Homo sapiens: one gene and its partners. The protein of the gene in region 1 purifies or fractionates together with the protein of each later gene. This does not show direct contact. Each region holds a gene or a part of one and is shown in the gene's direction. Other genes may lie near its edges. The genes, in order: C5orf24, CHFR, PKNOX2 and PBX3.

Evidence for each region.
Region 2: the proteins of C5orf24 (region 1) and CHFR purify together in Homo sapiens (affinity purification with mass spectrometry; 2 studies listed by BioGRID and IntAct, with this or other methods). This does not show direct contact.
Region 3: the proteins of C5orf24 (region 1) and PKNOX2 purify together in Homo sapiens (affinity purification with mass spectrometry; 2 studies listed by BioGRID and IntAct, with this or other methods). This does not show direct contact.
Region 4: the proteins of C5orf24 (region 1) and PBX3 purify together in Homo sapiens (affinity purification with mass spectrometry; 2 studies listed by BioGRID and IntAct, with this or other methods). This does not show direct contact.

What each region holds. Positions count from the first base shown.
Region 1 is NC_000005.10:134,855,293-134,860,893, forward strand, and holds the end of C5orf24 (UPF0461 protein C5orf24), read left to right. Parts: coding exon 1-175; 3' UTR 176-2,064; coding exon of another isoform or gene 2,065-2,105; 3' UTR 2,106-4,443; downstream 4,444-5,601.
Region 2 is NC_000012.12:132,884,266-132,892,583, reverse strand, and holds the start of CHFR (E3 ubiquitin-protein ligase CHFR), read left to right. Parts: upstream 1-4,978; 5' UTR 4,979-5,037; intron 5,038-5,243; 5' UTR 5,244-5,255; coding exon 5,256-5,388; intron 5,389-8,318. UniProt on the Homo sapiens protein: E3 ubiquitin-protein ligase that functions in the antephase checkpoint by actively delaying passage into mitosis in response to microtubule poisons.
Region 3 is NC_000011.10:125,167,244-125,175,576, forward strand, and holds part of PKNOX2 (homeobox protein PKNOX2), read left to right. Parts: intron 1-8,333.
Region 4 is NC_000009.12:125,742,108-125,751,208, forward strand, and holds the start of PBX3 (pre-B-cell leukemia transcription factor 3), read left to right. Parts: upstream 1-5,265; 5' UTR 5,266-5,346; coding exon 5,347-5,546; intron 5,547-6,075; exon of another isoform or gene 6,076-6,321; intron 6,322-6,442; coding exon 6,443-6,516; intron 6,517-9,101. UniProt on the Homo sapiens protein: Transcriptional activator that binds the sequence 5'-ATCAATCAA-3'.

The sequences.
Region 1 (5,601 bases):
TGCGGGATACAAAGTCAGCCCAGGCAGACCTCCAGGTAGCATTAAAGCTCTATCCCGTCTTGCCGATCTTGGTTATGGCTGTGGCACTGCTGCTTTTCCTTACCCTATGATGCATGGCAGAGCAGTTCATGGGGTAGAGGAAACTAGCAGTGAAGTCAAACCACCCAATGAGTGAATGAGGCAGGAAAAGAGGGCCAGGTTTAGAAGGAAGATTGTGAATAATCCCAAAGCTTCTTGGTTTTATTTTGATATACATAATTTTATGGCCTGGGCTTTCCAAATTTGTTTTCCTGTTTGGTTTTTTTCCTGCTTTTGCTCAAAAACTGCCATATGCTGACAGATGCACTCAGGGCATGAGCAGCGGCATTGTATTTGTACATAGGTTCAAGTGTAACACCTAACTAAATCATTTTTCCTTTTCCTTTAGAGTTATGGTCATGTCTCATGTTTCATTACTACTTTGGGGCTGTTCTAAATAGATGCTTTATGTGATAAACAACTGAAACCATTATACCTATTAGTTTGTGAAGTAAGCCTACAGTATAATAAAGACACTAACGTATTTTTAACTGATGGAGCAAAAAAGCAAACTAATGAATCAGGATTACTTGAGGTAATGGCTGTGTGAGTTTTTGTAACATTTATTTTCACAAGATGGGACACATATTTGTATGCTTTGGCATTTACATCCACTTCAAATGTTAAAAAACTTATTTTTAATGTTTTAGGTTTAAGCAGCTTGTAATTTATTGATCTACATGGCATTAATTGATTTAACCATTATACCTGAAATAATTCTTCAGTGTTTGCCTTTGAGCAGTGATAGGTTGTGTATTTTTTAATTGCCTAAGAGCATATATACCAAACACTACAAACAATTCATATTTACAGAAAATTTAAACTATTTTATAAAAACTGCACATTACATTTTTGGTGAAATATAGTGCATTCTGAGGATAGCATATTTCATATAATAGAAAAAGAAGCATTCTCTAGGTTTGCATGTAGCTATAGTCACTATATTTTGCCTTTCATATAGAAAGTTTTAAAGTATTATGTTTAAAAACATTTATTGGCTGGGTGTGGTGGCTCACACCCAGCACTTTGGGAGGCCGAGGCAGGCGGATCACTTGAGGTCAGCAGTTCAAGACTAGCCTGGCCAACATGGTGAAACCCCATCTCTACTAAAAATATAAAAATTAGCCAGGCGTGGTGGCGGGCGCCTGTAATCCAAGCTACTGGGGAGGCTGAGGCAGGAGAATTGCTTAAATCCAGGAGGCGGAGGTTGCAGTGAGCCAAGATTGTGCCACTGCACTCCAGCCTGGGTGACAGAGTAAGACTCCGTCTCAAATAAATAAATAAATAAATAAATAAATAAATAAATAAATAAAACCATTTATTGATGTTGCTCATTTATTTGGAACGTTTTTAGTTTTTCTCAGAAATTGTCCCATTGCATTAGCACTTACTGTGTTTTCAGGTTGATATCTACCAAAGGACACAAATTGAATGGTAGACTGTAAAACTGGTATAAACAGAATGCAGTTTCCCGACCATCAGAACCCAAATATTAAGAAGCATATAGGAATCCATCTATGCATGAAACATGTAAAAAATATGTTGGTTAGTTTAATTAAAAATCTTATTGTGGGTCCAGTGAGACCATCTCATCCAAAAGATTTTTTTTCCCCCAATGATGTTTGCTTTAGAAGCAAGATAGAAAGGAAAAAAAGTATTAGGTAGATATGTATAGTAGGGACAGAGGGAAATCTTTCTTCTTTCCTTTCTGAAAGTAATACTTCTTGTTACACATTTTATTTATTGAGTTTGTTCTAAATAAAATATTATAAACTTCAGACTTGAAAAAATTCCACTTAACTTTAAAGTTACAATGTTTGTATTTGGGATTTTAAATGCCTTTGAGATTAAAATGTAGAATTGCAGGACCCAAAAACTTTTAAAATAATTAAAATTTTAAAAGAGCACATGTTGTGTTTTTTGGGCTTGCTATTAATGCAAACTCTGATTGCAAATGGATGTCATGTTTCATACCTTTTTTATCAGGAAAAAAGCAGCAAGCCTTCAGGTGTTCCAGTGATGCCTGACACAATTGAGCTGGACTTTATGCTGCTCTTTACAGTAAGAGGTGTTGCATTGTATGTGGGGACTATGTGCACTGGCGTCTAAGACAGTGACCTCAACAATATTAGCTTTGCACAAACCATAGAGAACGATGTTGGATGGTTACATAATCAGTTATAACATTCTGGCAGCTAAATTGCTACAAGAGCTTTTTCTTGCAAAAGCTTAAAATACAAGATTTTTAATAATTTACTCAGAACAGTATAACTTCTGACACACACAAATGCTTGCCTCTTTATTCATATGTTCGTTACCTACTCTGTACATGTATCTGTCATTTAGCTGTTTCTCAAGATGATGTTCAGCAGTTGGCTGCTTAGAAATCTTTTTCAAGCCAGTTTCTAAAGACATTTGTTTAATGTTCTACCATAGAATAATGCACACCATTGTCAAAGATTTGATTATTGTGTTTTATAGTAAGTCCATTTGACATTTATTTCCCTTTCAGTTTATTTTCCTTCCTTATTTTGTTATACATACCCTTCCCTTTCTCCCCTGCCTTTCGTACATTCATTCCTCTTCCTCTACCCTCCAGCACATCTACTTACTGGTGCTGTGCTGTGTGTCAGAAGATAAAACAGGTGTATTATTGTATAATGAATTTTGTATACATGTTTATGAAATGGTGAGATCAACTAAAGGAGGCATGTTCATAACAGTGTTTATTATCAGCAGCTATGTCCCAGGAAAAAAAAATGGGAGGGGCAAATGGCTACAGTTGTAAATGGATAACATCATTTAGAAAGCCGAATTTACTGTTCATCTGAGCGGTTACCTGGAGTATTATATCTATGCACTGGTGAGCATCTCCTGATTCCACTTACTTTTCTCCCTGTGAACAGTTTACCGGTGCCATGCTGAAGAGAAAGACATCTAAGTGATAACATGAATGAAGTCTTAAAATTTAAAGTATTTTTACTGCTATATAAACTAAAGACTACATTGTGCATATTTTGTTAACACTGTCTCTTGTTATGATAAACACTGAAATAGCATGTTAAACAGTTGCCTATACTTTAATATAATCAGTTGGGGAAAACTGGCCTTTTCTCCCCCACTGTATGATTGTTTCTTGAAAGGTAAATTGCTAATTTTATACAGTGTAATTCTGTTCTTCACAAAATAGGTTTCATTATTCTATATTTAAACTGTTGGTCAGAAAATGATCTGCAATTCAAGTAAGTCTGCATTACTTTTTTCTTTAAAAAGTACTTTAACATGCCTTATTTATTATATTAGCAAATGAGCTAATAACAGATGAAATTTTCATTTTTTGACAGATATAACCTTGCATAAGTAGTATTTAGGGTGATTTTGATACTATCTTTAGAGTTTTGCATTGGATATTAAAAAATATATTGGCACAATGTATTGGAAGAAAATGAGTAGTATCTGGTTTAATTTTTAATATTTAGGGACATTTTAAAAAATCAATGTTTTAATTAGACTAAAAATTCTTTATATTTTTTATTTACTTTTTAAAGAAACATCTGTCAAAGTAATATTGATTCCAAACTGATGTTTGTGTGAATTTACATGTCTATTTTCATGAACTAAGAATAGAGTTTCTTTGAGTTGAGGAGAAAAAAATATATATGTGGGTCCATTTATTAGGTTAAAGTTGACCCATTCAGTGTAAAAATAACCATAGTGTGTGAGCTAAAGAAAAAAAAAAGTAAATTTCTCCTTTATATTCTAAGAAGCTTTAAAAGAACAATTCAGGGGTTATTGATAACTGCTACTCTGTCGGTCATTGTCTCTATATGCAGTAAAATTTTATGGTCCCTTTATAGGAATATAAAGAATTCAAAACAGTTTTTCAAAAGATTTTTTTCCTTGGACATAAAAAATTTTGATGCTATTCTATTTTTGTTTTTATTACAGCTTAACTGTATGCTGTTAAACTCTAGGATGTATCTGAATCTTTCCTTTTTTCCCCCCTCCTCCAAATATATAAATCTGTGCTCTCACATGTAATGTATTTAATTTTTGGAAAATTTAATGCTATATAGTAAATCAAGTGTGTGATTTAAAGTAATCAGATCACTTTGATTCTTTTAAGTTTTCAGAATTTCTTTTTTCCACAGGTAATTTTGGAGAAAATAATTACCAATTAACTGATAATAAGCACGCTGTCCTCTGCTGTAAAAAGTCTGAATAGATACTGTGTATGTTTTTATGTCCATGAACTTGAGCTACTCGTGTGCAATTATGTGTATGGGAATGGAGTAGTGTTCATGATTTGTATCTACATCATCATATGGATGTATATTTATTAATAAAGTCATTACTTTAAAACCAGCTATGTTTACTATGTTTTTTAGTGTGGTACTTTTCAAGTACTTAAGTGGTAAATGGTAAACCTTTTTCATGACTGTAGATCTTGTGTTTTTCTTAGAATTTTGCTTTTTTTTTTTTCTTTTTTAAGACAGGGTCTCACTCTGTCACCCAGGCTGGAGTTCGGTGGCGTGATCATAGCTCACAGCAGCCTTAACCTTCTCGGCTCAAGCAGTCCTCCTACCTTCCCACCTCAGCCTCCCGAGTAGTTGGGACTACAGGTACCTGCCACCATGCCCAGCTAATTTTTTATTTTTTTATTTTTATTTTTATTTTTTTTGGAGACAGAGTCTCACTCTGTCTCCTAGGCTGGAGTGCAGTGGCGCGATCTCCGCTCACTGCAAACTCCGCCTCCCAGGTTCACGCCATTCTCCTGCCTCAGCCTCCTGAGTAGCCTGGATTACAGGCGCCCGCCACCACGCCTTAATTTTTTAATTTTTGTAGAGATGGGGTACCCTATGTTGCCCAGGCTGGTCTCAAACTCCTGGTCTCTGGCCAGGCGTGGTGGCTCACCCTTGTAATCGCAGCACTTTGGGAGGCCAAGGCGGGTGGATCACGAGGTCAGGAGTTTGAGACCAGCCTGGCCAAGATGGTGAAACCCCATCTCTACTAAAAATACAAAAATTAGCTGAGCGTGGTGGCAGTTGCCTGTAATCCCAGCTACTTGGGAGGCTAAGGCACAGAATTGGTTGAACCCGGGAAGCAGAGGTTGCAGCAAGCCGAGATCATGCCACCGCACTCCAGCCTGCACGACAAACAAACTTAAAAAAAGATAAATCAGAATACAGCTAGAAATAAAAAAAGATGCATCAGACAAATAGTTCTACTAAAAGGCTAATATTTAAATTTAAACATTATTGATCCTTTTGGTTTTTTTTAAAAATTAGATATTAAACATGGCTCATTTTTAAATTTATTTTGAGATACAGTCTCTGTCACCCAGGCCAAAGAACAGTGGCACAATCATAGCTCACTGCAGCCTTGAACTTCTGGGCTCAAGTGATCCTCCCACCTCAGTCTCCAAAGTAGCTGGGACTACACCCAGCTTATTTTTTTTTTTAAGTTTTTTTTGTAGAGACAGGGTTTTGCTATGTTGCCCAGGCTGGACTTGAACTCTTGGCC
Region 2 (8,318 bases), on another chromosome or scaffold:
CGAGAGGAAGACGCAAAGCAGGCCTTGGGTTGGGAAGAAGGGCGGCAATGAGATATGGCTGTAGTCCAGGAATAGTCAGGGAAGCAGATAATTTGGTTAAAATGTCTCGGCCTAATAAGGGAACTGGGCAAGTGGGGATAACTAAAAAAGAGTGCATAAAAGAATGTTGTCCAAGTTGGCACCAGAGTGGGGGAGTTTTGAGGGGTTTTGAAGCTTGGCCGTCAACACCCACAACAGTTATAGGGGCAAGGGAAACAGGCCCTTGAAAAGAAGGTAACGTGGAGTGGGTAGCCCCCGTATCGATTAAACAGGGGATGGACTTACCCGCCACTGTGAGAGTTACCCGAAGCTCAGCATCCATGATGGTCCAGGGGGCTTCCAGGGTGATCAGGCAGCGTCAGTCTTCAGCCGCTAAGCCAAGCAGATCTTGGAAGGAGTCAGTCAGAGAGTCTTGGGCTAGAGCTTTAGGGGCTCTAGGGGTGGCTGCCAGGCGAGCTGGGCAGTCTGATTTCCAGTGGGTCCCTGCACAGATGGGACACGGCTTGGGAGGAATCCCAGGCTATGGGCATTCCTTGGCTCAGTGGCCAGATTTCTGGCACTTGAAGCAAGATCCTGATGGAGGAAGTCTTGTAAGAATGCTTGACTGCTGTGGCTTAGGTGTGTGCGGCTTAGGCATTTTGAATTTCTTGTGTGCTGGAGGTGTGGCTGGGTTTTGTCTTACAGCAGAGGCAAGTAATTGTAACTCAGAAATGCGTTGCCGTCTGGCTGCCTCCTCTCTATTATTGTACACCTTGAAGGCAAGGTTGATTCATTCCTATTGTGGGGTTTGAGGGCCAGATTCTAATTTTTGAAGTTTTTTCCTAATGTCAGGAGTGGATTGGATGATAAAATGCATATTAAGAATAAGGCGGCCTTCTGGCCCTTCTGGGTCTAGGGCGGTAAAGTGTCTGAGTGTTGCTGCTAAGCAGGCCATGAACTGGGCTTGGTTTTCGTCTTTACCTTGGGTAGTTTCTTTAAGCTTGTCATAATTAACAGGTTTGTAAGCTGCCTTTTTAAGCCCTTCAACTAGGCAGGAAATCATGTAATCTTGCCTAGCTGTACCTGGGGAATCTGCCTGATAGTTCCATTGGGGATCCTCTCGGGGAACTGCTCTGATGCCTTCCTGGAGGTATGGCTCGTGAAGCCGGTGGTTATCAGCGTGAGATTGGGCTAGAGAAAAAACTCTTTCCCGTTCATCTGGGGAGAGGGTAGAAGTCAGGATGACATTTAGGTCACTCCAGGTTAACTTGTAGGACAAAGTTAGATATCGGAATTCCTGTATATGTTTAGTGGGGTCTGATGAGAAAGAGCCTAAATGTTGACTGATCTGAGAGAGGTCTGATAGAGAAAAAGGCACATGTACCCTGACTATGCCTTCAGCTCCAGCCACCTCTCTAAGAGGAAATTGTTGGGCAGGTGGGGAAGAGCTAGTCAAGGAACTAAACTGTAAGCCGGACCGGGTGTGAGGAGGGGAGGTGACAGAAAGATTATAGGGTGGAGGAGCGGAGGCTGAGGAAGAATTGGGACTTAGCTTGGCCTGGCGACGAGCAGCCTGGGGAGGAGGGGAGAGGTCAGATGGGTCTGTAGAAAAGGAAGACTGGAAAGACTCAGCGACGCTTGGGGTTGGGACTGAGGGAACAGGCAGGAGGGAGAGAAGGAGGATTTGGGAGGAATCGCATTGGGAACAGAGACTAGGGAGGGAACGAAGTGTGAAAAATGCCTGGATGTAAAGCACCTCAGATCATTTGCCTATTTTTTGACAAAAATTATTTAGGTCTTGTAGAATGGAGAAGTTGAAAGTGCCGTTTTCTGGCTATTTAGAGCCATTGTCAAGTTTGTATTGGGGCCAAGCGGTGTTGCAGAAGAAAACAAGGCGTTTAGGTTTTAGGTCAGGTGTGAGTTGAAGAGGTTTTAAGTTTTTGAGAACACAGGCTAATGGAGAAGAGGGAGGAATGGAGGGTGGAAGTTTGCCCATAGTGAAGGAGGCAAGCCCAGAGAAAAGAGAGGGTAGAGACATGGAGAGAAGGGGGTGGGGGGTGCTTGCCACCCAGGAAAGTGAAGAAGGGGTAGAGACACGGAGAGAAGGGGTTGGGGGGTTCTTGCCCCCCAAAAAAGCATTACTTGCCACTAAGGGTGAAGGACCAAGGCAGGCGTCCCTGCATGGTCAGACACCTCTGAAACGTGGGTGAATAATCAGGCAGGCGTCCCTGCGCGATTAAACACCAAGGGAAGACTGTCTTCCCGAGTCCATGACCGGCGCCGGAATTTTGGGTTCATGGATAAAACGCGTCTCCTTTGTCTCTACCAGAAAAGGAAAGGAACTGAAATTAAGAGTAGGGAGAGATTAAAGTGTGGCACCAAGATTGAAAGGAGAAAGAGGTTGAAGGATAGTGAGAGAGGTGGGAGAAGAGAGTGAAAAGAGGCCATTACCCGATTTAAAATTGGTGAGATGTTCCTTGGGCTGGTTGGTCTGAGGACCTGAGGTCGTAGGTGGATCTTTCTCACGGAGCAAAGAGTAGGACAGGGGATTGATCTCCCAAGGGAGGTCTCCCGATCCGAGTCACGGCACCAAATTTCACTCGCGTCCATGTGAAGAGACGATCAAACAGGCTTTGTGTGAGCAATAAAGTTTTTTACTCACCTGGGTGTAGGCGGGCTGAGTCCGAAAAGAGAGTCAGCAAAGGGCAGATAGGGGTAGTGGGGCCGTTTTATAAGATTTAAGTAGGTAAACGAAAATTACAGTCAAAGGGGGGTTGTTCTCTGGTGGGCAGGGGTGGGGGTCACAAGGTGCTCAATGAGGGAGCTTTTTGAGCCAGGATGAGCCAGGAGAAGGAATTTCACAAGGTAATGTCATCAGTTAAGGCAAGGACCGGCCATTTTCACTTCTTTTGTAGTGGAATGTCATCAGCTAAGGCAGGAACAGGCCATTTTCACTTCTTTTGTGATTCTTCAGTTACTTCAGGCCATCTAGGCATATATATACATGCAGGTCACAGGGGATGCGATGGCTTAGCTTAGGTTCAGAGGCCTGACATGATCCACCTGCCTCAGCCTCCCAAACTGCTGGGATTACAGACGTGAGCCACTGCGCCCAGCCGGTTTTACACCTTTTAGGGAGAAAGTTCATAGATGGATTCAAAGATTTTCTGATTGGCACTTGGTTGAAAGAGTTGTTATTATCTAAAGACCTGGAATCAATAGAAAGGATTGTCTGGGTTAAGCTAAGGGAGACAAAGTTTCTATTTTGTTATTTTTTTTTTGACAGGGTCTCTGTTGCCCAGGCTGGATTGCAGTGGCACAGACTGTGGTTTACCGCAGCCTTGTCCTCCCGGGCTCAAGGAATCTGCCCACCTCAGCCTCCTGAATAGCTGGGACTATAGGCATGTGCTGTCATCATGTCCAGCTAAGACGGGGTCTCCCCATGTTGCCCAGGATGGTCTGAATTCCTGGGCTCAAGCGATCCACCCACCTCGGCCTCCCAAAGTGCTAGGATTACAGGCTTGAGCACCACCACTCTGGCCATTCTAATGCAGATGCCGCTCCAGGCAGCAGGCTTCAGAGAGAATAGATGGTAAACTTTTCTTATCAGAGTTAAAAAGGTGCCAGAGTCTTACATTCTCTCCTGGATCAGGAAAAGATGTGGAAAAGGAAGGAGATTCTCTACAAAGTAGATTTCCCCCAGGAGACAGTTTTGCAGGGCTACGTAAAACTATGTTAAATAAATACATGTCAGGGTAAAATACTTCGTTTTCTTCCAGGGCCTGCTATTTGTCATGTGATGTATCTTAATGCTACAGACCGTTTGGTCAGCCTTAAGTTGTCTGTTTTAACGTCGACGCTGGTCAGTTATACCTGAATTCCAAAGGGAGGACAGTATAATGGGACATATCCAAACCCTGCTTCCCATCAGGGACTGAACTGGTTTTTCAGATTAACTTTGGCGTTGAGAGACTCAGTTCATTCAGTTGGTTGGGGAGGCTTACAATTTTATTTTTGGTTTACAAGGTATAGATAACTATGCCTATACCTATATATACAAATGTTTATATATGTATATATGTGTGTATATATGGTTTGTTTTACACAAATGGATGCCTACTTTATTTATTTTGGTAGCGATGAGGTCTCAGGCTAATCTCGAACTCCTGGGCTCGAGATCCTCCTGCCTAGGCCTTCCAAAGCACTTAGATTACAGGCGTAAGTCACTGCGCCCGGTCCTGCTTCACCCTCTTAAAACCGCCCTTGGGGGCTCCTCATGAGTGCAGACATTGGCGCGTTCCTCCAAACCGCACAGACTCCCCCTGCGTGGACGCGTCTCGCCGTCTTTACTCCTCTTTCGCCGACCTTTCACTTTCAGGGAATACCCTCTGGCGCCCTTCTCTGGAGCACACACGTGAACGCCGCCGGATTCCAAGAAGTGAGATACTGAGGCAAAAGTTACGCGCGTTCAGAACAGGAAGACCCCGCAAAACGCCGGCCAAGACGTGGCCCCGCGTCCACCCTGCCCACAAGCAGCCGCTCCCACTCGCGGACCGCGCCCTGTGCCTCAGACTTCGGATCTGTGTGATCCACTGTGTGCAACTGTACCCGAAAGGGTCCCCACGTGCACTACCTCGTGACAACTAAGATGGACCGTCTTCTACTCCTAGGAGTCATCCCCAGATTAGCGGGGCTCTCAGAATCCTTGGGGCTTCCAATCCGGAAGTTCCCCGTCCCTTCTGCCCCAACATAACATGGCGCCGACCGCAGCCACTTCCGTGATCCGCAGGCGACGAAGTCGCCTGGTCAGGATCAAAGATGGCCGAGCGCCCTCCACGCGCCTACTCTCGCGGGCCACTCCCGGCTCCGCTTTAGCTGCCGCTCTTGGTGAGCGCCGCCGCCAGCCAATCGCGGGGCGCAGAGGCCTCTGGCCCCGCCCCGCGGATCAGCTGAGGGAGCCGCAATGTCTCTTGACAGCGGCGGCGGCGCAGCCGGTTCCGGGTTCGGCGCGGGGCGGGGGTAAGCGCGGCTGGCGAGGGGGCTGCGGCGGGCGGCGAAGGGGGACCTGGTTGCGGCCGTGGGAGGGGGCGCCCGCCGGCGTCCAGGCCGGGCTGCGGGGCTGCGTGGGCGCGGGCGGCCGGGCCGGGGCCCGCGGGGTGGGGCGGGCGCCGAGTCTCGGCCTCTGGGGTCGGGAGTCTCCATGGGCGTTTCCGGGGTCTCCGCAGATGTGAATCCCGATGGAGCGGCCCGAGGAAGGCAAGCAGTCGCCGCCGCCGCAGCCCTGGGGACGGCTCCTGCGTCTGGGCGCGGAGGAGGGCGAGCCGCACGTCCTCCTGAGGAAGCGGGAGTGGACCATCGGGCGGAGACGAGGTGCGGGGCTGAGGCCGGGGCCGGGGGCCGGGGCCGGGCAGAGCCACCGGGTTGCGGGCAGGCCACACGGGCGGCGGTGCAGTGTGCGCTCCAGATTTTTCCGTGGAGTGAAATGTCATGTAAGAACTGGTATTTATTCGGTGTTCTGCCCACCGATTCTTGCGCATGATTCACGCACATCATTTAGCCTTCGTTACAACTGTATAAGTTAGTTGTGTTCATATACTCTCCAGAATGCAATATTGTCACGTTCGTTGCCGTACAGAGTATCTTTTCTGACTGTAATGGAACGAAATTAAAAATAATAGAAGGAAAAGTGGAAAATTCACAGATATGTGGACATGAAACACCACACTCTTAAAGCAACCGGTGGGTCAAATAAGTCTTTACAACGGGGACCTTGTTTTGAGACAAATGAAACAAAAATAGAATACACCAAAAGGTATTTAGGATGCAGCCAAGGCAGTACTCAGAGGGAAATTTATAGCTGTAGTGCTTATATTAAAAAAGATCTCAAGTCCCAGCCCCTAGAATATTTATTTATTTAATAAACCTGGAAAGCTAAAAACTTGAACAAAGTCATACAACGGGTGAGAGAAAGTTCCCTCAGCCTCCACATTCACTGCCTCCAGTCTCCCAAGTGACCATCTGGTTGTTTGATTTCCTCTGAAGCCTTTGTATGGGGAGAGAAATGCGCTGGTCCTGTCAACAAAAATGTTTAGTTTGTCTGAAAATTAATGAATTAGCTCCGACATTATACTCTAAAAAGGAGCGAGGATGGGAAATATTTGCTGTTTGGAAGCAATTTTTTTTTTTTTTTTGGTTAATTTCACCCCTTATAATGTGCTTGCACCTGGTTTTTTTTGTTTTTTTGTTTGTTTTTTTGAGATAAGAGTCTTGCTCTGTGGCCCAGACTGGGGTGCAGTGGTGTGATCTCAGCTCACTGCACCCTCTGCCTCCCGGTTCAAGTGATTCTCCCGCCTCAGCCTCGGAGTAGCTGGGACTACAGGCGTGCGCCACCATGCCTGGCTAATTTTTGTATTTTTAGTAGAGATGAGCTTTCGCCATATTGCCCAGGCTGGTCTTGAACAACTGAACTAAAGTGATTCACCTGCTTCGGCCTCCGAAAGTGCTGGGATTACAGGTGTGAACCACTGTGTCTGACCTGGTTTTGTTTTTTGGGGTGTTTTGGTAGTCTTACATTCCAGTATCAAGTCAAAGTTTATTTTACAACTTTGAAAGTATTTAGATATCATCATAACATATCAAAATTATCCCTTTAAGACAAGAGGAAGTATTTGAAGATTTTTCCCTTTGTCTTTACTTGATAGACTAGGAGGTTTGGTGAAGAGCAGAGGCCCTAGAGACAAATTATGTGGGTTTCCAATCTGTCAACACATTACTCTGGGCTAACGACATCTTTCTGCGCCTATGTACCTACTTCATAGATTTGCTCTGAGGAGTTAATGAGATCATACACGGACTGCTTAGAAGGAACTTTAGCGTTAGCACTTAGCATTAGCCATTGTTATTGTAACATGTTATACATGTTATTACATGGTAGGACATTACATGTTAAGACAAGGAGAGAAAATATGTCGTTGAGTTTATCTTTTAATAGGAACGATTTTAGTGAATTTATAAATAATGTTGCCAGCAAAAACTTTAAGATTATTGTATTAGTTTGTTCATACTACCATAGCAAAATACTACATTCTGGGTGGCTTAAGCAACAGAAATTTATTTATTTATTTATTTATTTATTTATTTATTTATATATTTTTTGAGACAGAGTCTCACTCTATCACCCAGGCTGGAGTGCAGTGGCGCGATCTCGGCCCACTGCAAGCTCCACCTCCCGGGTTCTTGCCATTCTTCTGCCTCAGCCTCCCGAGTAGCTGGGACTACAGGCGCCCACCACCACGCCTGGCAGTGGTATTTTGTATTTTTAGTAGAGACGGGGTTTCACCATGTTAGCCAGGATGGTCTCAATCTCCTGACCTCGTGATCTGCCTGCCTCAGCCTCCCAAAGTGCTGGGATTACAGGCGTGAGCTATCGCGCCCGGCCAGAAATTTATTTTTTATTTTATTTTATTTTTTTAATTTTTGAGATAGAGTCCTGCTCTGTCACCCAGGCTGGAGTGCAGTGGCATGATCTCGGCTCACTGCAACTTCCCTCTTCCAGGTTCAAGCGATTCTCCTGCCTCAGCCTCCCGAGTAGCTGGGACTACAGGCACGTACCACCACACCTGGCTTATTTTTTTCTATTTTAGTAGAGATGGGGTTTCACTGTGTTGCCCAGGCTGGTCTCGAACTCCTGAGCTCCAGCAATCTGTCTGCCTCGGCCTCTCAAAGTGCTAGGATTACAGGTGTGAGCCACTGTGCCTGGCCAGAAATTTATTTTCATGGTTCAGGAGGCTGGGAAGTCCAAGATCAAGGTGTTGGCAGATTGGGTTCCTGGTGAGGGCTCTCTTGGCTTGCAGGTGGCCACTTTCTTGCTGTGTCCTCACATGGCAGAGAGGGGGACTCTGCTTGCTCTCTCTGCCTCCTCTTAAGAGGGCACCAGCCCTGTGACATCTGATTCCCACCTAGTGACCTCATTTAACATTTATCAGCTCACAGGCCCCATTTCCAAATACAGTCACATTGGGGATTAGGACTTAAATATATGAATTTTAGGGGGGTACAGACACTCAGTTACAAACATTCAGTTCCTAACAGTTGTAGAACTTGATTATTTTATTTATTTATTTTATATATATATATGTATTTTTTTTTTTGAGACGGAGTTTTGCTCTTATTGCCCAGGCTGTAGTGCAGTGGTGCCTTCTTGGCTCAACCTCCAACCTCCCGGGTTCAAGCAATTCTCCTGCCTCAGCCTCCCGAGTAGCTGGGATTACAAGTATGTGCTACCACGCTCAGCTACTTTT
Region 3 (8,333 bases), on another chromosome or scaffold:
TTCCTCCTCTTAATATTAAACCCACCATCCCAGCCCCCTGCACCCCTGGCAGGGAGAGCCAGACAGCCCTTACAGGACACGGAAGACGCACGACCCACGACCCACGAGTGGCCTCGGCGGCCCGGGGCGCGGCGACTGCCGCCGCGGAGCTCCAAGGCTGTTGTTTTGTAGGCTTGGAATTCGTGAGAGCTCTCTCCCGCTGAGAGCCCGAGGGGGGAGGGAGCCGTGACCCCACGGAGACTCCCTGGTCACCGCCTCCCCTTTGTGAGCGGGAAAGGCTTGAAAGCCAAGAGAAAGAGAGGCTGCTCAGAATAAGGGGCAGGGGGTTACCGGAGGGAGATGGGCCCGACCACCGCTCACAGTAAAATGCCTCGTGCGAATTGCACTGAAGTATACCCAACTTGAGACTGGCTGTTTTATGATCCTCTCTGGGAGTTTACTGCTCTCTGCTTTTAAGTCTATAGATTGCTTTAAGTTAATGAAAGTGCTGCTTTCAAAAGGGGCTTTTATTGTGTGGCAGTGGCAAATCCAGTACCTCCCCTTTACTCTTCCAAAATGGGCCTGTTTAAAAAGAGGGAGCTTGCTGGATCCCACATGGCAGAGCTTGGGGGAGGGTGCCATGTGACAATGAGAATTAATAAAAGTTAATGTCCAAGTGATTCTGAAAGACGAGTTTGCTTCTTTTCCAGTCCGGTTTCATCTGTTCATTCTCGTGTTGCCTTTGGGCTTTCACTGAGTCTGCCTTTAAATGTTGCTTGGTGCCTCCCCAGCAGCCTCTCCCAGCATTGCTTTAGGTAGGCCTGACCCCTGTTCAGTTAAACCCAAACTGGATTTCAGGATTTCAGCCCAGCTGCCAATTCAAACTGCAACTAAAATATTTACTTGGGACTGGGGGAGGGGCTTTGCCTCGCGTTTAGTAAGATAAATGTGTTTAAATGCCTGGGAACCTTGAGAAGGAACAAGGCAGGCTGTTTTTCAGTGCTTTTTGCTTTTTCAATCTGTTTGGCACAAAAGGTGAGATGACAAGGTTTTTGACTAGGTCCTAACACAGAAACTGCAGTGGGCTCAGGCTGTGGCTTTGACCGCATGTCATAACCATTTAAACTGTGGTTAGTTGTTCAAAGCTCAAAGCTTCTCCAAGCTGGGTTTCATTAACTCTACACCAGTTGCCTGGAAGTTCAGTAGCAATAAATTGTATAAACACATTTGAAGTAAGTTAGTGATGAAATAAGTAGAATTACTGTCTTGTGAGTGGAGAATCCTGAATTCATGGAGTTCTAGCTTAACTGGAAACATACCTCCTCTCCCTTGGCCTTGAAGTTTATGGGTGCACCAGAGTGTGTGTTAAATTTCTTTCTGCCATGTCCATCTTCAACCTGGGCTGTAACTCATTAGAGACCAAGGCATGCCTAGAAAGCAAAACGGCTGGATTTTAAAGGGGTCTCTATTAGCTTGGTTTAGGAATCAAACCAAACCAATTGACCTGACTTCTTTACCTTCCGTGAATCCAACGTGCAACGTAAACAGCAGCAGAGCAGGGGAAAATTAGATGTTTAAATGTTAGAGGCTTAATAATACTGCGTTGTTAGCAATTGAATTTGTTTTTATTAAAGAAACAACCAATAAAATTTATAGGCTTCCAACATGTTGCAAGATTTCCTTGCTATTTATTTAGCTTCCCCCTCCCTACTTTCTGAAATTCTATCTCTAATCTCAGGCTTTTGTTCCCGATTTATTTAATCTGGAGCACATTTTCTAAATTAGTTCGAGGAGGGTGAGAAAGGCTGTTATGAGTTTTCCTTTTTCCTACGCTGTGTGGCACAAGGACTGCGATGCTGTAAGATATATATAAACGTGTGATGCAATTGCTGGAGGTGACGGCATGTGAAGCCAAGTGTCTGGATCAAACAAAACGCAGATCCGAGCATGGAGAGGGTGAAAACGATGCTGCAGAGGAAAAACTGAGGAAGTTCTAATGGAAAATGAAATCATCATGAACCACCGTTAGCCTGAGTCTAGCCAACACACCATGCTTTGTATAAAACACTTCACGTGAGATCCGTGACTTATTGAAGACTGAATTATACTGAGAAGCAGAATTTAGAGGGAGGAGCTCCACGGGCTGGGTTCTATCCAGGCAGCATGGCCAGGATTGTTGCGATGGGGATCTGCTAATTTAATTAAATCTAATACCTGGTGGGAAAGGGAGGAAGGAGGGAGGGAAGTGGTGGGCAGATAATCAAGGTTGGCAGGTCAGCATGCTGAGCTAGTGTTTAGGCTGAAATTTAGTGGCCTGGTCTCTTTTGACTCTGTTATTGCCAGGGCTGCATGACTCCAGTGGGTCATCTAGCTTCTGGGCCTTGGTTTCTTCATCTGTAAAGTGGAATGTATCACACACAGTTCTCACTAGGGTGAGATGATGGGCTTGGATCAAGCACAGGCTGCGCTCTGAGTAAAAAAAATGGGAGATAGAGGCTTCTCAGCAGCAAAGTCACATTCTTCGGTGTGTTTTCTTTCCTCGCCTGGCTCCAGGGCCTTCCCCACAACTCTCAGGAGTTCTTAGGCTATAGTAAAGGGGCTGAATTCCTGCCTTGCATTACATCCTAGAATTTGAAAGGCCTGCTGTGACTCCAAAAACCATCTACACTTTACCAAGAGGGGCAATTTTGGCTGAGTTGGGGGATCCAGCCCGCTTCTTCCAAATGGTGTTACCTGGAATAGCTGTCCTGTATCAGACGAATGCAGAATCTGACTTATCAGAAATGCAGCCCCTTCTCTTTATTCCACTGGGAAGGCAAGGCCTGAGCCCTGACTGGTGTGTGTGTGACATCTGGTCGGCTGAGGGGGTTGGGTGCTGGTCTGCAGCTAGCCACGGCCTGAACCTCTCTTAGCAGTCTCTGCTGGCAGATCAAAGCAGATTCTGGGCCAGAAAGCCCAAGAAGTTACACCCGGCACTTACACAAAACTGTGTGTGCGCTCGTAGACTCCTTCTGTTCCGGTGTCTGATTTGTAAAAGCTAGCTCTGATCCTGGAGACGCGGCTCTGGTGGAATGCTTGTCTTTAATACTCCCTAGTCTTTGGGGATTCCTTGGGGTAATTTTTCCTCCTCATTTCCTTCTCAGCCAATCACAGGCAACATCTTAGTCTCCATTTTGATTGGGGGTGGGAGACAGGGCTGGGGGTTGAGAGAGCAACAGTTGGAGGGCACAGTCTTTCTACCTGAACTCCAGGTTTTCCTCCCGTCCAGAACCCCCAGGAGAGAGGGAGAAGCAAGCCCGGGACAGCTCAGTTCATCTCACGCGGTCAAGCAGAGCTTGAGAAGAGCTTGCTGCAAATGCGTTGTCTTCAAGGGGATCTGCTGTTTGGCTTGGATGCCTCACTGCAGGCCCGGCCTGCCTGGGTTTCTAATTACAAGAAGGACGTTTCTGCTAAGACCTATCTCACTAAAAACACATCCCTGTGTGTAATAAGAAACCCTAAACCAGGCAGGATATTTTAAAACTGAAGCAATGAAGATTAGATTAAGTCTCCACCAAACAGCTTCGTTCTTGTATTATTTTTGGCTGGAATGTGGAGAAAAGCAGCTGGCCCTGGGGCCCAGAGCAGACTCTGGAGAGTTCGGATAGGGCCGGGGTGGGTGGGGTAACTGTTAGTTTTCTGCTTAGTAGGAACGTGGCCAATTTGAGTACGGCTCAGTCAAGGCAGTGGGGGTGCCCAGTGGGGGAGGGGGGAGGCTGGGGTGGAGGAGGAGCCAGATCCAGATGGGCCAGAAAGCGGCCACAGAAGCAGCAGGTCACAGGGCACTGAGGCTTGTAAATCCTCCACCTCATTAGGACGTAGTCTTTTGTGTTCAATTTACATCTCTACTCACATCGCCATCCCAAATCTAGTAGAGAGGGAACAAATAGTTGTTGAGGATTCTTGGAAATAGAACCCAGTAATCGGGCATCATGGGCAGGTGTCCTGCCTTGCTGGGGAGGGGCAGCATGGCATTCACCCATTCCCTTTGTTCTTCCATTCAGCAAATATTTATAGAGCATCTTCTGTGTCCCCGGCACAGTCCTAGGCATTGAGGAGACAGCAGCAAAAACAAAGCCAAGACATTGCCATGAAGCCTGTCCTCAAGGAGCTTGCTTGTGGTGGGGGCGGTGTTGAGTATGGGCTTTATTTAGCATCAGGCAAAACTTCATTTAGAGCCTAGCCCTGCTCTTTACCTGTCATATGGATCTAGACAAGTTGCTTAACATCTTCGATCCAGTTACCCCATTTGTAAATTGGGAAGTAAAAGCACATAGCTCACAGGACTGTTGAGGGGCATCTGTTAAGTCCCTAGCACGGTGTCTGGCACAGAGGAGAGGCTCAGTCATGGTTGACTCTCCTCTGTCATGTTATGTTGGAGCTGATGATCCAGTTGGAGGATTACCCCTTTCCCTTTCCTTTTGCTTCCCCAGAACCTGGCTTGGGCCCTTTTCCAGGTCACTGGCGTCTTCAACCAGCGTTGCACAAATAGCCAGTCAATGCTGTGGCCTGGTGCTGCCTGCTGTGCACAGCCCTGGCAGAGGCTGCAGTAGAAAACAGGTACACAGACCCTGAGGACACTTTGGGGATGAGGGGTGTCTGGGGTTAACAGTAGAGAGGGCACATACAATACACAGACCTGAGAGATGATGGACAGAGAGGTGACGTGGAAAAAGCCACCAACCAGGTGTTAACCACAGGAGACAACAGTGGGGCAGGATGTGGAGTGACCAGGACAGAGTGGAGTCACAGGGCAGACTTCTGGGAGGAAGGGAGCCTCTGCAGAGTGTTAGAGGAGGACTGGCTGAGCGGCTGGCCAGTGGGGGCATGAAACATGAGCCTCCTAGGTCATGGTGCTCTGCGCTGTCCTGGGGACTGCAAGGGAGCAGCCTGGACTAGAAGGAGGAGCTTAGCCCCCTCTACCTATCCCAGGTGGCCAGAAGTGGGCTGTCCCTGCCCCAGGAGCACCAGGTAAGGCCTTGTTGTTTGGGTCCAGTTTCCCTTACACACTGAGGGATTTCCGAGCAGACCTTTCCACGTTGGCTTCTCAATGGGTAGAACTTAGACCAATGAGTTGGTGCATGAGGCAAACAAATCACTTCACTCCTGGTTGCAACATGGCTTTCTTACCTAAGATCCCCTTTTTCCCTAAGCAGAGAGAGCAGAGACTATAGGCCCACATCCAGCCCTCTTCCATCTCAGGAACCATGAAGCTGATTGATATCAGGGTGATCGGGATGGTGGAGAGAAAGGGGGGACTGGTAGTCTGAGCATGGTGGATTCCACTGTGGACTCAGCCACTGACTGACTGTGTGACCTTCAACAAGGGACTTACCTTCTCTGGATGTCAGTGTCCTCACTTATCCAATGAGGAGCTTGAACTTGCTCTCAGAGGTCCCCTTCTACTCAAAGTTCCATGATTCCATATTTCCTCCCAATTGGATTGCTTCGTGGCTTTGTGGCTAGGCAATCATTAAAACCACCGCCACCGCCACAAATCCGAGCAAAGAATCATGATGACATTCAACAGACTGCAGGGGCTTGGCCCCTGTGGTATAGAGTCTTAAGGACAGTGGGGGCCTAGGGGTTGGTTCTGACCCTTCTGATGGCCTGCCTGGGACAAATGGATGTTCCTAGCGATAGGGGATGGCTCCATGAGGCAGCAATTTCAGTCTGAAAACTCACTGGCTTCTTCATAAAAAGCAGCATTTACTTTTCTTGTTGAGACAGCGTGGGGCTAGGGGAAGGAACACAGGCTTTGGAGTCAGATTCTGGGTTCTGACCCTGGTTCTACTACAGCTAAGCAGTGTGCACATCACTTAACCCCTCTGAGCCTCCGTTTTCTTGGCTTTATAGGTGAGGATAATAATACTACCAAGCATATTTAAGACTGCTGTGAAAACTCTGGAAGAAAACATCTGTAAGTGGTTGGCACATGGCAAGCTCATGTTGAATAAATATTAGTCTTCTGTCCTAATAAAGCTCATTCTCACATGCCCTTGTGTGATCCTCTTAGCCTTGTGAAGCAGGTAAAATGGGCATTGTATCATTTTATAGGTAAGAGAAACTGGGGCTCAGAGAGTGGCTAAAGTGGCAGGTCCAGGAAGTGGGTGCAGGTGTGTCTGTGTGTAGCAATGGAGCACATTATTTAGGGTAGCCCAGGCTTATCTTCTATGATGATGGTTCTTCCTTTAGCCTTCTGGAGACAACACAAGCCATTCCTGAGCTCTACCTAGTCCTCTCCCAAGATCTTTCATAAAAGAACCAGCTAAACTCATCTCCTCCATTACTCGAATCTTTGGCAAATGCTGGGAAGAGCTACTGTTGTGAAAACCAAAGTCTAGAAGATCTGTTTTTTACTTCCACAAAGTCTTCAGTCTCAGGTGGGGCTGGGAGGGCCCGCACTAAGAGGCAGAGGTAGATTTAGGAGCAGGGGATATCTCATGGCTATGAGTGGGGGCAGCGAGGCTGCAGTGTGGCCTTGGTCTGCCAGCCCAGGTGTAAGCTGGACCCCTGGGTGGAAAGAATTCCCTCGGGGGCTCGTGCCCGTGGTCATCAGCTCACAATCCAGACAGATGTCAAGCCGACAAACACCAAGGGGAGTTTAGCCCGTTAGTGGTAGCATCTGTCTAATTCCTATTAGGTAAGGGGAGGGCACAGGCTCTCTGGGTTCCAGCGTAGCACAATGGGTCTGTGCTGGAGTAGTGGCAAGTGAGCCCTACCCCAGAGCTTCCCCTCACGGTCCTCAGTCCACAGTGCATTGTTAAGGAATGGATGCTCCTCTGTACCAAGTCCTGTGCTAGGTCTAAATGTGATGTGACCCCTCCTTCTGAGGAGCTGTCCTGCCTTCCTCCCAGGAGACCTTCCTCTGTGGAGATTGTCAGTTCTATCTCCAGGTCCAGGGCAGGGAGACAGACGCCCAGAGAGTCAAGTGTATGCCCCGGGCCCAGGGGCGACAGGTGCTTGTTCTCATTCTCATTTCCTCCCTAAGAATCCACCTGTCAACAGGTGTGGCCTGAACCCACTATTTAATTAGTGCCCATTAGCATGCTGTGGGGAACACTCAGTGGCCTCATCCTCTAGGAGCTACATATTTTTGATGAGGAGACCAAACAAAACGCATGTGAAATTGAGAACAAGCTATATGACCTTGACTCATCTCTTAACTTCTCTGGATTTCAGAATCCTCATTTTATACAATGAGCAGGTTATCCTTGGCTCTCTTCAAGCCCCTTTCAAGTCTATTCTCCTACGACTGTCTGGGCTGTACATGCGAGGTCCATCAGGCACCATGAGTTTGTAGAAGGTGATAGGACACCAGAGAACACCTAGCCCAGCAGTGGGAAGGCTGTCTACCTGTAGGCAGGTGAGTGGGTGGGAAGATATATTGCAGAGGTAGCTGGCCTCATTTATTTGTCTGCAGGGGCCGGGAGAGTGCTTGTTGAGAGGGACCCTGCAGAGTCCCCCAGCTTCCAGGAGGGTCAGGGGGACAGAAATCAGGCAGGAGAGCCTGGCAGAGTGGGAACTCAAGACCGCTGCTCCCCTGTGGCCCAAATAGCGGTGGTGGAAGGAGCTCCTCTCCCGGCCCCTCTCCCACTCTGCCCCCCACCCACCGGCTCTGGGAGGAGACAACTGGTTTCATAGTAGGGCAGCGGTCCCCTGGGGCCCTCTTGACTTGTGAGACAGATTCTGGAGGAAAGCCAAGGAGCTCGAAAGGATTCCTCCAGCCTTCCCTGAAGCCTGTTTCCAAGGAACCTGACTTAGTCTCCGGCACTGGCATAGCACCCCTTGAGAAGTCACCTCCATTCATGAGAGCCTCTTAATGGCAGCAAGATGGGGGACTGCTAACTCCTGCTGACTTCTAGATTGTAGGGGGAGCCTCTTTCCAAGCTGGACGTCTGGTCTCCTGGAATACTTTTCAAAGTCATTTCCACTGGGTTTGAGGAGAAGGAAGGAAGGAAGGAAGGAAGGAAGGAAGGAAGGAAGGAAAGAAGGAAGGAAGGAGGGAGAGCTTCAATCCCAGGCAGTCCTCCACGGAGCACCATTGGCTGCTGGCAGGGGTAATGGGAACTTCCCAGCATTTCTGCTGCACAGAGTCCTGGTTCTGGTGGCCCTGACCTGGCCGTGGTGGAACTGGGCTCTGGGGAGACAGGCTGCCACAGCTAGCTTGCAGGTAAAGGCAGAAGAAGGATGTTCCCTGAGCTCTGTGATTTCTAGGTAGCTGTGCAGGACCTCCAGCGTGAAGGCCACAGACGAGTGGAGGCTCCTTTGCTATGTGGTAGGCTCTGTGCTGAGCCCTGTGCTGGGGGCTGTCA
Region 4 (9,101 bases), on another chromosome or scaffold:
CATCACTTTAGAAGGATGGACTGTTATCCCACTAAATCTTTGGTAACTCAATCAAATCCATCCTTAGAAGATAAACGTTGGTCATATGTCACATGTGCTATCAACTGTAAAGACCAATTCTAAAGAGTCATTCCTGTCTGGGTGCAGTGGCTCATGCCTGTAATCCCAGTACTTCGAGATGCTGAGGTGGGATGATCCCTTGAGGCCAGGAGTTTGAACGCAGCCTGAGCACCATAGCGAGACCTCATCCATACAAAAAAAATACAAAAAATTAGCTGGGTGTAGTGGTGTGCACCTGCAGTCTCAGCTACTCAGGAGCCCTGAGGCAGGAGGATTGCCCAGGAATTCAAAGTTACAGTGAGCTATGATCGCGCCACTGTACTCCAGCCTGGGTGACAGAGCAAGTCCCACTCTCTAGAGAAACAAATCAATGAACAAACAAATAAACAAATAGATAGTCATTCCTAAAGCAATGGAGCAATGATACATTTTGAAAAGAAGCATTTAGTCAGTTTCCCCAAAGTGACAAGTTGGAGAGTGTTACCTTTTCTTAGATGTCTATGATTTAAAAAAAAATCAAATCTGTCATATTATAGTCACATCTTACGACACCTTGCCCTTGACATTTTTATGACCTAGATGAGGAAACTAACAGAGGTGGATGGAGAACAAACAGTGCAAGACTATCTAGTATGGTAGTAGGTTATGTATTACAGGCAACATATACTGAGGGAGTTTATTTATTTATTTATTTATTTATTTATTTATTTATGAGACAGAGTCTCACTCTGTTGCCCAGGCTGGAGTGTAATGAGGCGATCTCACTGCAATCTTCTGAGGGAGTTTAGAGGAGACAAAGATCAGAGAAGACAGGCATCACAGAAAAGCTTCGGAGAGGTGGGACCCAATGTGGCTTTGAAGAATGGTCTGACTGTCCTTAATTTCCCTCCTCCCCTGCCTTGAGACCTGGATTCCTCTAATATAGCTGTTTATTCTCTCTTTATTAAGCACCTAGTTACTTATTTTCATTAATTTTTCAGTTTATCTGTTAAGGTCTTGTGATTTTTACTTCATAATCTTAAATAACTTTTAAAAAAATTTTAGGAGAAATGGTAGCACTACTTTGCTCAAGCTAGAGTGCAGTGGCTATTCACAAGTGTGATCATAGCATACTGCAGCCTCAAACTACTGCACTCAAGTGATTCTCCTGTTTCTGCCTCTAAAGTAGCTGGAACTACAGTTGCATGTCACCAGCCTGGCTAAATTACTTTTTTGCACAGTGTTTTATACGGTAGTCTTTGCAGCCACATAGATCAATATTTGAATTCAAGCTCTAGTACTTACTGGCTTTGTGGTCTTGTGGAAATTTCTTACTCTCTCTCATTCTATTTCTTATTTAATAACAATCCCAAGCAGGCTGTTGTGAGACTGTAATAAGATGAAGCAAGGGAACACAGAGGATAGTGTACCCCCAAAGAAAGTGCTCAATAATGGCATCTGCTGTGATAGTCACCCTATTGATGACAGAGGCAATGGTGATGTTAATATAAACTCATGGAAAGGGATGGCCATGAAGGAACATCTGCTTGGTTTTCACCACTTTGTCACTGTTAACTTTACATGAATGTCTGCTCACCAAAAGTCAATTTCATTTCCCTTGACATTTTAATAATCACTACCTTAGAAACAGCAAAGACAGACTCGGGTACTCAGGGAACTTCTGTTCTGTCATCTGTGAAGGCATCAACCTTGTGACTCAGATTCTTGAGCAGAGATCACGCAACATTCTACATGAGACACTGGCACGAGCACCAAGAGATCCTGGAACATCTGCAATTAGTTGACAGTTATATTGAGGCTTGGAAACCAGTCTAAAAAAGTTATGCTTTAAATCAACGGCAGTTGTCAATGAGCCTGTGAAGGAATCCTTGCTAGGGTCCTCAGGCTTCTACTGCAACTCATACTGATAACAACAAAAAGAGAAGCCTCCCAAGCAGAAGGTCAGTCTAATTCAATCACTTAAGGCAGAATTATGGTATCAAGTTTCCACATCACTGAATGACCATGGGTGTAGAGGAGTGTACCATAAAATAACTGTGGGTGTTAGACATTTAACAAGTTGTTTTATTCCTAATTGCTGGCATTTGCCTAACTGTTTTCTTAATTCTAATTTATGTTTTTATGTTCCAGTGTGTTTACACAGCCCATAGTTCCCAATTGCCTTTATTTGCTTAAGTGTTTCTTTATTTACTTTTTTTTTTTTTTTTTGAAAAGAAGTCTCACTCTGTCGCCCAGGCTGGAGGGGAGTGGCACAATCTCAGTTCACCGCAACCTCCACCTCCTGGGTACAAGTGATTCTCCTGCCTCAGCCTCCTGAGTAGCTGGGATTACAGGCGCCTGCCACCAAGCCCAGCTAATTTTTTGTATTTTTAGTAGAGATGGGGTTTCACCATGTTGGCCAGGCTGGTCTCAACTCCTGACCTTGTGATCCACCTGCCTCGGCCTCCCAAAGTTCTGAGATTACAGGCATGAGCCACCGGCCTATTTACATTTTTATATATGTTGCTTTGCTTACATAACTCATTGTTCGGAGTGGGCTAGAAATAACCATAAATCCCCATTGCTAATTAGCCTCATCCTCATGACTGATTAGTCAAGATTATGAGTCTAGAAGGAGGGCAGAGAGGAGTCCTAATAGTGAGTCACAGGATTATTGAATTTTACAGCTGGAAGGAATCTTAGAATTTAAGGCATCTTTCAGTTAGAATTCTGTGGTTTTGCATCCTCAGCGTTGGAGAATTATGAAAGGTTGACCGCTTGCTCCTGCGCCTTTTGGCAAAAATGCTTAAGAATTTGGTGACAGCTTTAAAAAACAAATTAAGAATAAAGAAAAAACCCAATCAATGACGATTATAAGTAACCCATAATGGGGGCTTCAAAGAAGAATTGGAAACTTGACATATCAATGGGGTATAGAAGAGCAGAGAATATTAATGAACATGAAGGGGGTTCTTCTTTGGAGGTAAGTAAGCAGAGTGGATTTTTTGGAACTCCCTCCTCAGCAGCTGTGCAGTTTGTAAGGATTTTAGCTTGCCTAACTGTAAGCTTAGCTATTAGCTTTGCAGTGGGGAGTATTTAAAAGTACACACAACATATGAAGGAAAGAACCTGGAACCGAGTAGCCTGCTTCATTCCAAGAATCCATCTGGCATTTAAAGAACTGCTTGTCCTACATTAAACCCTGCAGAGTAAGAGCCATTTTTCATATCCTCATACCCCTATTTTTGGTTTCAGGTAAGACAGCTTACTGAGTTTGGAGAAGGAACAAAGAGACTTTTCCGAACCACCGAACCAAAGGACTCATCTAGGGTGAGCTCAATGAATCTAAAATCGGGAACACACATTGCAGCCCCTGTTTGGGAAATCAGCTTAAGAGCAATCTCAAGTCTCCACAAGAGGCGGAGGTCCATATTCCAAAATAATGTGAGCCTTCAGTTATTTGTAGGTAGAATTCAATGGAAGAAGGGGTGTTATAGATACGAAAAATCGTGGCTGGCGTTACCAACATTAAATGACTCGTGGTGATGGGGTAAGTTGACAAGTGAAATCCAGTCTCTTCCTAAACAAACGTATCTTTGTAATGAAGAGCTCGTTTTTGCAGCTTCAGTACATCTGGAGGCATCGAATAGCAAACGCTGCCAAAGGAGTAGTCCCTGGATTATCAGGAGTTGCAGAGTGTGTAAAGTGTTGTAAACCTTGAAATTAGTCCTGGACTGAAGGCACTTTCCCTCCTCCCAGACTCGCTTCTCTCTGACACATTTCCCCTTTCAATGGAAAGTCTATGGCAGTCAGGTCCACTCAGCTCAGACTTCAAGTATGTGAGACCACAGGTTCCCACCTTAACTGGTCACCCATTGAGGGACAGCACAAGACCCCGGTGCTGGCGCCAACGCTGAGCTGCGCCCTCTCGGTTACCATGGCGACCGCAGGCGGGGCGAGGCCCCCACTCGCCGCTTCCCCGCCTCTGCCCAGAACCTTTCGAACGCTCCAATTGGGACGACCCTTTCTTGCCTCTGTCCCGCCCCATTCGGCTCTAAGCGCTTTGCGATTGGCCCGGGACGAGCGGCCTGGTACCCAGAGGGCACCACCTCCTGACAGGAAGAGCGGGAAAGTGCACCAGGAGCTGTCCGAGGCGTGAAGCTCACGGGCGCGGCGGGGGAGCACACGGTTGGCTTTGCAGCGAGTTGCCCACTGTCCCATACACAACCCCCCGCTCCCATGACTGCCAAAAGCATGGAGCAGGAGTCGGGGTGCGGGCACACCGTTTGTGGGCCGGCCCGGTCTATCCCGGGGGGCTAGGACGCGACGAGGTTGGAGCGAGGATCCGGCGGCACACTCCGGAGCGCGGAGTATCAGAGGCCAGAGGGAACGGGCCGGGCCCCGGGGGCGGTGCCGGCGGCGGCGGCGGGAGGCGCAGAGCCCAATGAGCGCGCGCACCGCCCCGGGGGCGGGGTCTGAGGAGCGCTCCCCCGCCCTTGCCAGCCCCCGTCCCTCCCCCCGGCGCGGGGCCGCAGTGAGTGAGTGGCACTGGCAGCCTGTCAATCCCTCGGCCCAGCGGCCTTCCAGCCCGGTCCGCGGCGGCTGCTGGCTGGGTGCGCGGCTCCGGCGGCGGCGGCGGCGACTTCTCCCGCCCTATCCATCGGCTGTCCGCCCGGCGCGCGGCCCGCCGGGGCCCTCCTCCGGGCTCAGCGCCCCCGCCGCCTCTGCCCGCCCGCTCCCAAACTTTCCTCCTCCGCCCCCCCTCGCTCCCCGCGGCCCGCCCGCAGGCCTCCTCCTCCGCCGCCGCCCGCCGCCGCCGCCGCTGCCTCCCCCGGGGCCGCCGGGGCTCGGATCCCGCCTGGCCGAGGCGGCGGCGGCGGCCGAGGAGGGCAGTGCGCAGGCTGGCGCGGGGGGCGGCGGGCGTCCCGGCAACTCGGCGGGCGCTGAGGAGCAAGTTGCGCGGGGCCGCCCGGCGGGGCGCGCGGCGGCGAGGAGGCGGCGCGGCGGCCGCGTGAGGGCAGCGGGCGCCGCCGCCTCCGCCTCCGCCACCGCCGCGGAGCCCGGCGCTTCCGCCCGCCGCTTCTCCTCAGCCTCGGCGGCGGCGGAAGCCGGAGCCGGGCGCCCGTCCTCATCGCCTCAGCCGCGGGCCCTGCCGGCCGGGCCGCCCCCTCCCCGCGCGGGCGGGGAGCGCGCGGCCGCCTCCCCCTCCCCCTCCCCCTCTTTCTTCTCCTCCCTCGTCGCCGCCGCCGCCGCCGCCGCCTCAGCCTTCGCCTCAGCCGCCGCCCGCTCCCGCCCGCGCGCGGCGGGATGGACGATCAATCCAGGATGCTGCAGACTCTGGCCGGGGTGAACCTGGCTGGCCACTCGGTGCAGGGGGGCATGGCCCTGCCGCCTCCCCCGCACGGCCACGAAGGGGCGGACGGCGACGGCAGGAAGCAGGACATCGGCGACATCCTCCACCAGATCATGACCATCACCGACCAGAGCTTGGACGAGGCGCAAGCAAAGTTGGTGTCGTCTCATTAAGCATCTTTTGTGTGTGTGCGGGAGCCGGGCCCGCGGCCGAGTCGAGGCCCGGGGTGGCGCCCGGGGCTAGGGCCGCAGCCCCCGGCGGGGAACTTTCTCCGAAAGCCGGCCGCCCGCCCCGGCCTCGGGGGGACTTGCCCGCGCCCCCCGAAGCGGGCGGGAGTCGGCAAAGTTGCTCTGGGGGGCTCGGGACGGACTCGGTGCGGCGCGGATTCCGTGGCGTCCTTTCCCCCGTCCTGCCCCTCGCAGCCCGGCCCCCTCCCAGGGATTTAAACCTCCCGCCCCGACCCCGTGCGGGCCGCGCCGCCGGGAAGTGTAACTTTCTCCTCCGGCGGGGAGTCCCGGCGCCGGCTCCCGCGGCCGCGGGACGACCTCGCGATGCGGGCGGCCACCCGGGCCCGGCGCGGGGCGATGGGCGGTTCCCTGGCGGGTCCGGGTGCGGACGGCCAAGTTCTCGGAGAGGGAGGGCCGCCTTGCAAACTTTGCCGAGCTGTCACCCTCCCGCTGGCCGCAGTCGGCCGGCCTCCTCTGCACAGGAGCGGACGCGGGAGCCCCTCCGCACCCGTCCCCTCCCCCGGGTCGCCTTCGCCTGCCCCCGGGGCGAGGCTCCCCGCGCGGGTTCGCGTCGCGTCTGCAGTGGCCGAGGCTGCTGCCTGCCGGGCAGATGGGTCCGCCTTGTTCCGGCTGCAGCTTTCGCCGCCGGGGCTTGCTGGCTGTCGGGAACTAGTCAACTGGAGTTTTTGTTGACTTCCCACGGTTCAAAAGGGCCTTCCAGAATGGGGGGCTGGAATTAAATCTTGGGTCTAACTTAAAGGAAGGCGCCATATTATTCCATAGGTGATGCTAATACCTTTGTGTTTCGTTATTTGTTTTTTAGGAAACATGCCCTGAACTGTCACAGAATGAAACCAGCGCTCTTCAGCGTCCTGTGTGAGATCAAAGAGAAAACAGGTAAGACGCTGCGCCCCGCAGTGGGCCTGGAGACCCCCGAGGTGGGGGTCGGAGCTACTCCTTCGACTCTCCAGTTGAGAGCTGCTGCTTTTGGGCACCGCCATCTTTGATCATTCTCTCCTTCCCACGTCCTGATCTTGAGAAAAAACTGCAATAAATCTGGAGTCAATTTCTCAGTTCTGCTCCTGGTGTAAAATGAAGTGTAGGTGCGGACCGGGCTGGATCGCCGTCCCTCGGCGGCCGCCCCTGGCTGCAGGCGGGGAGGGGGCCCGGAGCGCCAGCCGCCCTCTTCCCTCTCCTTTCGCCTTGTTTGTGTGTCAGTTTTTAAAAGGAGCAACGGGAGACTGGATGCCAGGACCGAGTCCCCGGGAGAAGCATCGCCCGAACTTTGTTTTACTTAGACAGTCTTAAGCTTCAGCTGCACGGATAGAAGAATAGATGCAATTGAACAGACCCCAGTAGCATGCTTGAATTAGTGTTTTAGGTGGGAAGGCTACTTTAGAGAATCGAGGAAGGGTAATGATGTGTAGACACATACGATGTATTACATCTGTTAATACTTGTATTATTTTGTATTCTGAAGTCATTACACTTGTAACTGTGCTTAATATATAAAGTATAAAAAGGTCTACAGATGCAGGTTAAACAATTTTGAAGTGTCCAAGTCAGGGAATATATAAGAAGATAGGTTTTGCAGAAGTGCTGGAATGAAAACTACAGGTACATATTTGGCAAATTTTTGGCAATTCGTTTCAGTTTAACTTTCTTGTCAGACTTTATTAATTGAAGGTCTTTCAGTCTTGACGTGAGGTAACTGCTCAAACTGAAGCAGAGATTTGGATGTTTTAGTTTGTATTTGGCATTATCTTCCCTGTATGTGGCAAACAAGTACATTAAACAAGCTCTACTGTTTATTTTTTTCCTGTTCTTTTCTTTCTTTTTTTTTTTTTTTTTGGTGTGTGTTGGATGTATGGTATTTTAAAGTTGCCATTTTGAAAGTTGAGGCAAAGGAGAAAAAGTTGAAGTCCAGGATATAGCACTATCCAAGGGAGGCTATTTAGAAGGTTACATGTGATTGTGTTTAAATTGAGTGTACAAATAGCACAGTGCAAATAATTGTTAGGTTGATAGGCGAGTCAGCCTTCTTTGAAACAGGTTTTTCGCTTTGCAATACTATTCTGATCCTAAAAGTAATCAAGAAAAGATGATGAGTTATTGCTGTCTATTAAATATATATGCTAAACCATAATAAGCAGCAAATAATAAGGGAGGCCAAAGAGTACTTTTCCTGGTTTTCATTCACATATTATGGCTGGTTTCTTAATGCTCAGTGATCCTTTCTTGAATTACTAACTTTTATTTTGTGTTGATTTTTAGCTACCTTTAGAAAGCGTTTTGATTTAAAGCAGTAGATAATTTTTATCTGACTGTAAAATAAGACATCTAGCATTCAGTCTTGAAGATTCTTAGTTTAGAAGCTTAAAAGTATGCAATTCTCAGTAAATTCTGATGCTTAGTGTCCAAGGGTTTTCCTGCTATCAGGGCTCCACTTCAGTTTCTGCTGACAGCCAAGCACTGGGGTATTGACTATGTTGTGAATATTAAGATTGATTCGACTTTATACAGCCTTATATTACTAGGGAGAGGGGATGGATACTTATCGCTTCTCATCCCCTTCTCATTATTTGTATTTATTTATTTATTTTTGCCTTTTTAAAGTTTTGGCCTAGCTAGCTTGAGAACTAAACCCAGCAAACTGCTTTTCATGTTGAGACATTTAGCAGCAGGCAGAATTCAATTAGGAAGCATAAGTCCTTTAGTTGCTTATTTGCACAGGACTTAGTTACACCATTCTGAAAGGAAAGTATAGTCAACCACATGTCAAAGGTGAGTTACGAAAAAGAAACAAATCTTTTCAAAGTCTGGGATTACTGGCAGAGAGAGCTTTGGTAGGGCTATTGCTATTTAAAAACCAAGAGGCAGCTGACAAAAGAAATTTTTGTGTTTTAAAATTGTTTCTGGGGCTTTCAGTGATAACTTGTAAATTAGATTCTCTTTTTGTGCTTTGGCCAGTGGATCCACATTTGCACGTTATCTCTTTTGTAAAAAGCCAACAGCCGACAAAGAGTAAAGGCGGCTGTCTGGGTAGAGGCATCTTCCTGCTAGCCTCTCTAAGCTCGAGAGGGATGGGATTTAAGTACTGAGTGATTGATGGGGGTGAAGCTCTTTCTCTTCTTTCCATTCTCCCCTACTACCCATAGCTTCACCTCACTCTCCAAAACTAGTCTTAGAATGAGACAGGGACTCAGAATCCTCAATTCGAAATAAAACAGCTGTGTAGACATTAGTGTTACCAAAGCAAAGAAAGCGGGGCTGCAAATTCCAAGCCCCCCCACTCCTGCTTCCATAGTCGGTCATGCTTTAGAAACATGAACTTATAAAAGAAACATTGTAGAATATATGTATATTGCATAAATATTTTTTAAAAATCATTTTATTTAATCTAATAATACCTAAAAATTAATTCTTTGTAATTTAGAGAAAGTTTACCTAGTCATTTATGAATAGAAACCAGAAACATTATG